3 separate regions of the Homo sapiens genome follow, and regions 1 and 2 are each reported to be linked to region 3. Evidence: microRNA targets listed by miRTarBase, many of them from high-throughput screens and not tested one by one. Region 3 holds a microRNA gene; each other region holds the end of a gene's coding sequence.
The links. Region 3 holds the annotated microRNA hsa-miR-520g-3p (ACAAAGUGCUUCCCUUUAGAGUGU, at 1,140-1,163, opposite strand). A microRNA usually pairs through its seed, bases 2 to 8, with sites in the 3' UTR of a target mRNA and lowers its output. Matches are read on the target gene's strand: a 7mer-m8 pairs with bases 2 to 8, a 7mer-A1 pairs with bases 2 to 7 and ends in A, and an 8mer does both.

Region 1 (3,000 bases), not on the chromosome of region 3:
TCAAGCAATCCTCCTGCTTTAGTCTCCTGAGTAGCTGGGACTATAGGCACACACCACCAAGCCTGGCCGATTTTTATATTTTGTAGAGTCAAGGTCTTCCCATGTTGCCCAGCTGGTCTTGAAGTCCTGAGCTCAAATGATCCACCTACCTCAGCCTCCCAAAGTGCTGGGATTATAGGTGTGAGCCACGGCACCCGGCTCATTTATCATTTCTTTGTGTTAGGAACATTCCAATTCCACTCCTCTATTTTGAAATGTACAATAAATTTTTGTTAACTATAGTTGCTCTACTGTGCCACTGAACTACTAGATCTTATTCCTTCTAATGGGATTTTTGTACCCAGGGAAGGTATTTCAATGGTGACAGACACCCCGTGAGGTATATGTAAAAAAGGGCAAGCGTTAAAATAGTGGAGCGGTGGGGAGGCTGCCCTTGCAAGTGGACACACTCTGGCTCTCACTTAGGGTAAAAGAAATTGTCTGATGGGAGAAAGAGAGCTAAAAACCACACACAGACACACACACACACACACACACACACACACACACACACACACAAAGTGCCTCATCTGTCTGAGAAGTGAGGTGGCTACTGTTTTTTTCAATAAGTCTTCTTACCCAGCTGATGATGAAATTACCTGGCTACTAACACTGGAGTTGCAACTTACAAGCAGAGTAATGAGTGTTTCTAGGAAGTGCTGCAGCTCTCTGAAGAAAAAGAGTTACATCAATATAATAATAAATAAACAACATTATTTCAAACACAACTACAAATTTATACAAAGTTGTTTTTATTTCCCACCCCATGACCCAATCATTTGGCATTAAAACCGAAAAACGAGGCAAGAAAACCAAGAATAAAAAGTGAAGAAATTTTTGTATTATAATGTATTCAACCATTTGTTCTGATTATCTAAGAGAAAAAAAGTATTAGGAAATCCAACTTCAACAGAAAAATTCAAAACGCTTCCAAGGAAAATCAGAAAACTGATCTGCTTAGCCAGAGACCAGTGGTTCACAGTGTTTGATTCTGTGGTTTTTAAATTCCAGGTCCTTGTCTCACCCTAATGTCCCACACTCCAAATGAAACCAGCAGTGCACCAACAATACCCATCCCTCCTCAACCTCGGCTGGGCACCGCAACAAACCAAAAACATTCTTGGTTTTCTTGTTTTAAGGAAATCTTTTTTCTTTTTTTCTATATGCTAATCTTCTCTATATCATTTTAATTTTAGTATATGTGCTGCTGAAGTGAGCACATTTTACGGAGTTTTAAGCTAAAGTTTCTTTTCTCACACATTGTCATATAAAAGGGGTATTTCTGCTTTGTCCCCTCCCTGCCATCATACCAAAAAATAAATAAGTACATAAATACAAATTAGAAAAGCTTAAATAAGACCGGTTTTTAAAACCCAATAAAGCAAGATGAGACAGAACTAGGCCCGAAGGGACTGGGAGAAGATTCTAAAATGGAGAGGGGGGAAAAAAAACCAGAAAAAAACGGGTTTCCAAAAACACTGAAACCCATGGTATGTGATAACTTTCTAACCATCTGGACTTTGGTAGGAGTGTCACGTTTTCCAAAGCTGACTTCTGGAAATCTTAACCTGGATTCAGAAAAATTCCAGCAAAGTGAGCCAACAGCCAGGAAGCGGTTATTTTGCAAGAGAAAGGGGGTAATTCCATTTACAAACATATATAAATAGAAATAAAGGCCACACACCTGGGAGAAAAGTTCACTAAAAACTCCCACCCCAACTTGAACTTTCCTAGCTGCTAGATTTTTTCTGCCTGTTAAAAAACTAAAAATTACTGAAGATCAGGCACAAAGAGCAAAAGAGCATGTGTATATTTGGGGAAGAAATCGTCATGGTATGCTGGAAAGTTACTGAAATCCACGGAAAAGGCTTCATCTGCACTCTTTCAAGAGGCCAAGGGAAGCCATTTTCGAATCCAACTCAAGTCACAGTCGTCATCAATTCAATCCCCAGAGAGGATTTAGTCAGCAAGGGCCGACCTATGCCACAAACTGATTTTACTACACGCCTTGCACACCTGCCAGTAATAGCAATATCTACTTGAAAACTTTGCTTCACAGACCTTCCACTGCCTTTCCCAGTTGCCTGAGTAATTCTCTTCAGGCAACTTGCAATGACTTAATTATCATCTCTGGCTCCAGAAATGGGAACCACTTAGTTGGCACAGCTTAGAAGTATAATGGCTGCTTCTGCTGGTTTCTGCAGCTCATGTTGGCTTTTTTTTTTTTTTTTTGAGACAGAGTCTTGCTTTGTCAACAGGCTGGAGTGCAGTGGCGTGATCTCGGCTCACTGCAACCTCCACCTCCCGGGTTCAAGCGATTCTCCTGCCTTAGCCTCCTGAGTAGCTGGGACTACAGGCGTGCACCGCCACACCCGGCTAATTTTTTTGTATTTTAGTAGAGACGGGGTTTCACCATGTTGGCCAGGATGGTCTTGATCTCCTGACCTCATGATCCACCCGCCTCGGCCTCCCAAAGTGCTTGGATTACAGGTGTGAACCACCGCACCCGGTCTGGAGGTCTTAATGGTCCCCCAGAGTCACCCGCTCCACCTGCAGAGTGGCAGTACCACCGTAACTTGCTCTACACAGGCAACAAGGCCATTTTCAGCTGTTACTCAGAAACTTGCTTCTTGGTGATATTAGGTTTAAAAGACAAGAAAGAAATCTTATTCTACAGGGTTGGAGAAAGGGAAAATTATAACACAAAAGCCCACTTCAGTCTCTGTTGATTCTGCAAGAGTCACAGCTGAGTTCTGAGGCCGCCTTTCTTCTCACCAGCCCATCTCCAAGCTGTGCAGTCACAGGAAGAACAGGTTCTCGCACAGCTGGATGGCTGGTTCATGATGCAAGATGTGTCCTGACAGGAAAGCTAGCTTGTGGGCATACTTGCAAGGAGCTGGAACTCTGATGGTGCCAGGCCAATTCCAGTACATGTGGCACAGTTTGAAAGTCAGCCTGTAG
Region 2 (3,350 bases), not on the chromosome of region 3:
TCTATAACTTTGAAGATTTTTCGGCATGTTCGATGTTAAGGTTTATATATTTAGATAAATATAAGACGGCAAACTGAAATGCCATCTTCTCTAAACGAAAATGCCATCTTTTCCTCAAAGTTACATTGTAACACAAATTTCATTCCTGGACACTTTGTGACTGGTTCACTAGTGTGTGTGTTTTAAGAGAGCATATTTAGAGAAATAAACACGTATTAGATGCAAAAAAATCATTTTTACTAACATCAGTACTACATTACATACATGAATATATATTTAAAACATTTTTTAATTTGTCAAAACTCCTTCCCCTATATTATTATAGATTTCAGTTGTTTTAGAAATCAAAAGTAATCTCTAAACAAATTAAAGGCAGTGATTCTCAGAGTGGGATTGTACTGGAATCATCTGAAGGGTTTTAATGTGGCCTTTCCCTGCTCTTTTCAAGAGATTCTGGAGAAGGTGGCAGCGTGACCCATCAGCTAGTAATGCCACTGGGGGTGGACACGTAGGGTGTGCTTCCTTCAGGGGTTCCAGGGACGCTGGTAATCAATAGGGGCAGCCTCCGCTGTTGGCAAAATGGGTGAGCCTGTCACAACGGCTGCCTTTGTATTCCCCCTCAGAGTGATCCAGAGTTTGTGCAGTGGAAGAAAGAGTTGAACGAAACCTTCAAGGAGGCCCAGCGGCTATTGCGTCGTGCCCCGAAGTTCCTCAACAAACCTCGGTCAGGTACTGTGGAGCTCCCAAAGCCATCCCTCTGTCACAGAAACAGCAACGGCCTCTAGCACCCAGAAACAGGGAGGGTCCTCGAGGAGGACACACCAGGGTCTCAGCCTTTTGGGGTGAACGAGGATGAGGCATCTGATCTATTCGCTACCGGGACTCCTCCAGGCTCCCGAGAGGAGTCGGGACCCTTCGGCTTGGGGTCAGCTCAGCTCCCTGCCTTGTCACATTTGTCTGCATTAGAAACTACTGAAGAAATAAAAGTTCTTTTTCTTTGCTACACACTTTGGTACCTATGAACCTAGAACTTGAAGTGACTCCTACTTATCACGTAAATTTTTATGTCTGATATCAAACACATCTTAGACTCCCCAGAATGGAATTTAAAGATGTTCAGTGTTGGGTAACAGATTGCCCTAAGCATTGCCACATATTCTGTCTAGTCACTGCTGATTTTCTATGTCTTTGCTCCATACTGCTGGGGGATGGGAGAGCCACAGTGTGTTTCTTTTGTGCACTTCGCAACTGACTTCTTGTCCTGGGGTTAAAAGTTGAAGATATTTTCTGATGATATTAAAAGTTGAAGATATTTCTGCACTTGGGCCCTCCTCTGGGAGCCGCACCCACATGACTGCCCTGCCTCTGACCAGTCTGTTCCGGGGCCCCCTCAGCCAGGTGGGAATGACGGACACGTACTATCCAAGTGTATGGGATTAACTAATCATTGAAGGCATTCATCCGTCCATCATTGGAAAGATTTACAGTGATTCTGAAGGACAGGCCGTGGAGTTTTAGGTTTCAGGGGCAAGAGCAGTTTTCAAAAGTCTTTGAGTCCAGTGTGCACGAGTCGACAAGCAGTACCTGGCATGCAGGAGCACTCATGGGTGAGTCCGTCTCAGGTCTCGACAATTAGCAGTTGTGTGACAGTCATTCTGGTTCCTTCTGCCTGACCCTGGGAGACATATCAGTAATGGATGTACAAAAGCAGGTCTGTTTTATGTCTTAGTATAATTTCAGATGAATTGTATTGAAAAAATGCTGAGGAATGAATGTGTCAAAATGGGTTAACTGTGTATATTGACTTTCATGTCGTCATGCATCTGTCATGAATGAATGATACTTTGCACTGGGCTGTACGACAGTGAGGACCTTAGGGCATGAAGCCTTTTTCCTGGTCCCAGCAGCATCTGCCCTGTGAAGTTTGTTTTCTCCCACTGCCTCCAGGCCCCACTGATACCCCCAAATAGATGCTGGGTTATGAGAACCAGCGAAATCCCCCATGTCATCAGTCTTAAAAAAAAAATTTTACAAATCCACGTATTTGTCCCATTCTTGGAGTAGTTTTAGTGTATGTCTTTACATTAACTACTAACAGTATAAATAACTTGACATCGTAATTGTCTGCATCCTGTCCTTGATATTTTTAGCAGTTCCAAATCTTTGTTTTTGTATTTGTTTGCTGTGTTCATGGGCAAAGTAAGTACTTTTTAATGCAGTTATTTTGAGAGTTTGGAAGATAATTACCAAAAGGGTCCATTATTTCATAAGAGTTACTTTGCAAAAAAAAAAATGTGGGTTTTTTTTTTTGTCTATCTCAACTACTAGTTGGGGTTTAAATTAACATACATTTTCTACTATCTGTTATTTCCAGTGTGGGAGGAGGGATGTACTACTTACATGCATTCTCCTTATTTAAAAAGGAAGAATAGTATTCAAATTCTGTTGAAACACACACACACACACACACACACACACACACACACTCCAGAAGCAGAAAAGCCATTGTTCTTAAAGAGTGAATGTCTTCCCAGCCCTGGTTAATTATAGCTGTGACTGATGCCGTTCCCGTCTGCATCTCAAGCTCATAGGTTCTCAGCATGTGCAGTTGAGGATGCGCTGGGCCTCATGCCTGTTCTAGATCTCCAGGATAAAGGGCCTGCTGTTGACTCCACCAGGGTCTGGGCTTAGCGTCTAATATCTCGTACCTAGGGCGTGAGCTGCACAAACGTGTTCAGAAAGATTATTCAACTTTCCCATACTTGTTCTAAAATTGAGCTGATCCGCATCTCTTTCAAAAACTAGAATTTCTGCTCTAAGAATAGAACATAAGGCTCCACTCCCTTTTAGAAAAGATATATGAATTGGAAAATGCTCTGAAAGTCCTTTTGCTTCAAACAAAAGTGTAAACTTTTACACTTCCCCAACTCACATTTGATTTGTAATGATATGGTTGAGAAGTACATCTAGATGTCATTTATTAAAAGTGCTTTGTAAGACTAGATTGAGCTGTTTCTGAGGGCGGTCACCAGTTGTGTTGGGGTCTGGTTTGAGTGCCTTCTGCCAAAATGTTGTGATGGAGGTGTTTCTGCGACCAGACACAGGATACCGCTGTGTCTGCACCCGGTTGCCTGCATGGCCAGAGGAAAAGTCAGTTGGATTAAACATCATGGTATACTTGGCTGTTGTTTTTTTTTAATTTTTTAATTTTTTGGGATAGGGCCTCGCTCTGTCACCCAGGCTGGAGAACAGTGGGATGATCATGGCTCACTGCAGCCTTGAATTCCTAGGTTCAAGCAATCCTCCCACGTCAGCCTCCTGAGTAGCTAGGACTACAGGTGCATGCCACC
Region 3 (3,350 bases):
GGGGAAACAAAGATGCCCACACCTAAATAGCGTATCATTTATTGTTTAAGCACATCTCAAATACATTGTTTATCTAAAACACAAGTTTAACTGAGGGCCGGGACGAACCAAAAAATGGTCCTTACTTTCTTCCTGCCTGTGCATGGGTTAATATTTACATGTAGTCCCATCTAACAAGGCCTGGGAGGGGCAGAGGCAGGAGGATCTAAGACCACTTTAGCCAGGGCAGCATAGTGAGACCCCCGTCTCATGCATTTATCTCCTGGTCATGCACCCAAGATTTCAGCTTCATTTCCCCAATACACACTGAAGCCCCATGCACTCCACCTCCGTGCTCTTGCTCATCCCATCTGCAGGGACACTGAGGTCCCCTCAACTCCACCTGACCCCATGTGAGGTTCTATACCAGTGCCAGAAAAATTTCCATAAAGTAAGAGGTGTTGATGGCCACGCACCATGGCTCACGCCTTTGGGAGGCGCGCGGTGGTGGCTCATGCCTGTATTCTCAGCATTTTCGGAGGCCAAGGTGAGTGGCTCACTTGAGGTCAGGGGTTTGAGACCAGCCTGGCCAACATGGTAAGCCCCATCTCTACTGAAAAAAAAAAAAAAAAAAATTCAAAACGTAGCCAGGCGTGGTGGCGGCCACCTGTAGTTTCAGCTACTTCAGAGGCTGAGGCAGGAGAATTGCTTGAACCTGAGAGGCAGAGGTTGGAGTCAGTCGGGATCATGCCACCGCTCTCCAGCTGGGGAAACGAGACTCCATCTCAAAAATAAATAAATGAATAAAAAAGAAAAATACAAATATTAGCCAAGTGTGATGTCGGGCCCCTGCAATCCCAGCTATTCAGGAAGCTGAGGCAGGAGAATAGCTTGAACCCGCGAGGTGGAGATTGCAGTGAGCCAAGATCGTGCCACTGCACTCCAGCCTGGGTCACAGAGGAAGACTGTCCCAAAAAGGACCATATGAGCCCAAGAGACCTAGGTTGGAAGTGCCTCTGTACTCCAGCCTGGGCCACAGAGACCCTGTCTTAGAAAACAAAAACAAAACAGAACCCCAACATCATCCAAGTCTGATAATAAGCATGCAAATATATTACCAACATCAGCATCAACTTCAACACTGCTTTTCCCAAACGGTAACACTCTAAAGGGAAGCACTTTGTTTTTTCTCAGACAACAAACAGAAAGTGCTTCCTCTAGAGGGTCACAGCATGGGATCTTCTTGCTCCAGCACTCTGGGTTTCTTGTTGGAATTTTCCTTGACCAGGTTAAAACGGATACAAAAATAAAAATGCATTTATTGGCCCTGTTTACATGTTTTATGGAATCCAGAACATAAACCCCTGAAAGGACCATCTCCAATTCCTTGCTTCAAAGGCTCAGCAGGTTAGCCTTGTTCATCAAGGGGCGATCGTCCTGAGTTTTGTCCCCAAAGAGAAAAAGGAATACCTACTACTCATACCTTACATTTAGCTAAGAGAATTGGGCTGATGTTGAAGAATATACATTGTCTCACACACAAACATCCTCCAGGATAGACCAGAGTCTAGGCTGACTCTAGAGGACCACGTGAGATTAGGGGCGGTGGCTCACGCCTGTAATCCCAGCACTTTAGGAGGCCAAGGCTGGTGGATCACCTGAGGTCGGGAGTTTGAGACCAGCCTGCCCAACATGGTGAAACCCAGTCTCTATTCAAAACACAAAAATTAGCTGGGTGGGGCAGTAGGCACCTGTAATCCCAGCTACCCAGGAGGCTGCGGCAGGAGAATCGCTTGAACCCAGGAGGTGGAGGTTGCAGTGAGCCTAAATTGCAACACTGCACTCCAGCCTGGACATCAAGAGTGAAACTCCATCTCAACAACAACAACAACAATAAAAATAATAACTAGCAGGACACGATGGCGGGCATCTCTATTCCCAACTATTCGGCAGGCTGAGGTGGGAGAATCGCCGGAAGCTGGGAGGCGGAGTTTCCGGTCAACAGGGATCCTGCCGCTGCACTCCAGCCTGGGAAACGGAATGAGAGCGCATCTCAAAAAATCAAAAATAAAAAGATCACCACTTGAGCCCAAGAGATCTCGGTTGGAGGTGCCACCCACTCCCGCCTGGGCAACAGGGAACCTGTCTTGGAAAAAAACAAACCAAAGAGAACCCCAACATCATGCAAGTCTGATGATAAGCACGCTCTGCAAATGTATTACCAAGATCAGCAGCATCTTCAACGTTGCTTTTCTCAAACAGTAACACTCTAAAGGGATGCACGATCTTTTCTTAGACAACAGACAGTGCTTCCATCTAGAGGGTCACAGCATGAGGTCTTCTTGCTCCAGTACTGTAGGGTTCTTTTTTTTGTTTTTGTTTTTGTTTCTTTTTGACGGAGTCTTGCTCTGTTGCCGAGGCTAGAGTGCAATGGCACGATCTCGGCTCACTGCAAGCTCCGCCTCCTGGGTTCAAGCCATTCTCAAGCCTTAGCCTCCCGGGTAGCTGGGACTACAGGCACCCACCACCACGCCTCGCTAATTTTTTGTATTTTTAAATAGAGATGGGGTTTCACCGTGTTAGCCAGGATGGTCTCGATCTCCTGACCTCGTGATCCACCCGCCTCGGCCTTTCAAAGTGGTGGGATTACAGGCGTGAGCCACAGCGCCCAGCTTTTTTTTTTTTTTTTTTTTTTCAGACGGAATCTCACTCTGTCATCCTGGCTGGATGCTGTGGCACAATCTCGGCTCACTGCAGCCTCTGCCTCCCGGGTTCAAGCAATTCTCCTGCCTCAGCCTCCTAAGTAGCTGGGATTACAGGTGCCCACCACCACACTGGGCTAATTTTTGTTGTTATTGTATTTTTAGTAGAGACGGATTTTCACCACGTTGGTCAGACTGGTCTCAAACTCCTGACCTGAGATGATCTACCTGCATCGGCCTCCCAAAGTGCTGGGATTACAGGCATGAGCCACCATGCCCGGCTTTATTTTGTATTTTTATTCATTTGTTTATTTTTTGAGACAGAATTTCCCTGTGTTGCCCAGGCTGACCATTTGAAGCCAAGAGATATATTGGACATGTCACTGCACTCCAGCATGAGCAACACAGAGCCTTAGAATAAAAAAGCAAAACCAAAACAGAACCCCACCATCGTCCAAGTGTGATAAGCATGCTCTGCAAATGTATTACCGAAATCAGCATCAACTTCAACGTTGCTTTTCTCAAACCGTAACCCACCAAAGAGAAGCACTTTCTTTTCTTTTAGACAACAGAAAGGGCTTCCCTTTGTAGACTCACAGCTTGAGATCTTCTTGCTCCGGCACTCTGGGTTTCTTGTTGAAATTTTCCTTGACCTGGTCAAAATGGACA

Region 1: miRTarBase lists PIWIL2 as a target of hsa-miR-520g-3p. Seed matches in the 3' UTR shown: 7mer-m8 at 2,511-2,517 and 7mer-m8 at 1,629-1,635.
Region 2: miRTarBase lists GRK3 as a target of hsa-miR-520g-3p. Seed matches in the 3' UTR shown: 7mer-m8 at 1,006-1,012.

What each region holds. Positions count from the first base shown.
Region 1 is chr8:22,355,343-22,358,342 of GRCh38, reverse strand. PIWIL2 (piwi like RNA-mediated gene silencing 2) reads right to left here. Exons shown (of 23, transcript NM_018068.5): 23 at 775-2,994. The coding sequence ends at 2,838. Among named protein-coding and RNA genes, the nearest start is that of SLC39A14, 10 kb to the left of the region's middle.
Region 2 is chr22:25,721,666-25,725,015 of GRCh38, forward strand. GRK3 (G protein-coupled receptor kinase 3) reads left to right here. Exons shown (of 21, transcript NM_005160.4): 21 at 624-3,350. The coding sequence ends at 785. Among named protein-coding and RNA genes, the nearest start is that of MYO18B, 19 kb to the right of the region's middle.
Region 3 is chr19:53,720,033-53,723,382 of GRCh38, reverse strand. MIR520G (microRNA 520g) reads right to left here and starts at 1,217; the gene lies at 1,128-1,217. MIR517B (microRNA 517b) reads right to left here and starts at 2,307; the gene lies at 2,241-2,307. MIR520D (microRNA 520d) reads right to left here and starts at 3,287; the gene lies at 3,201-3,287.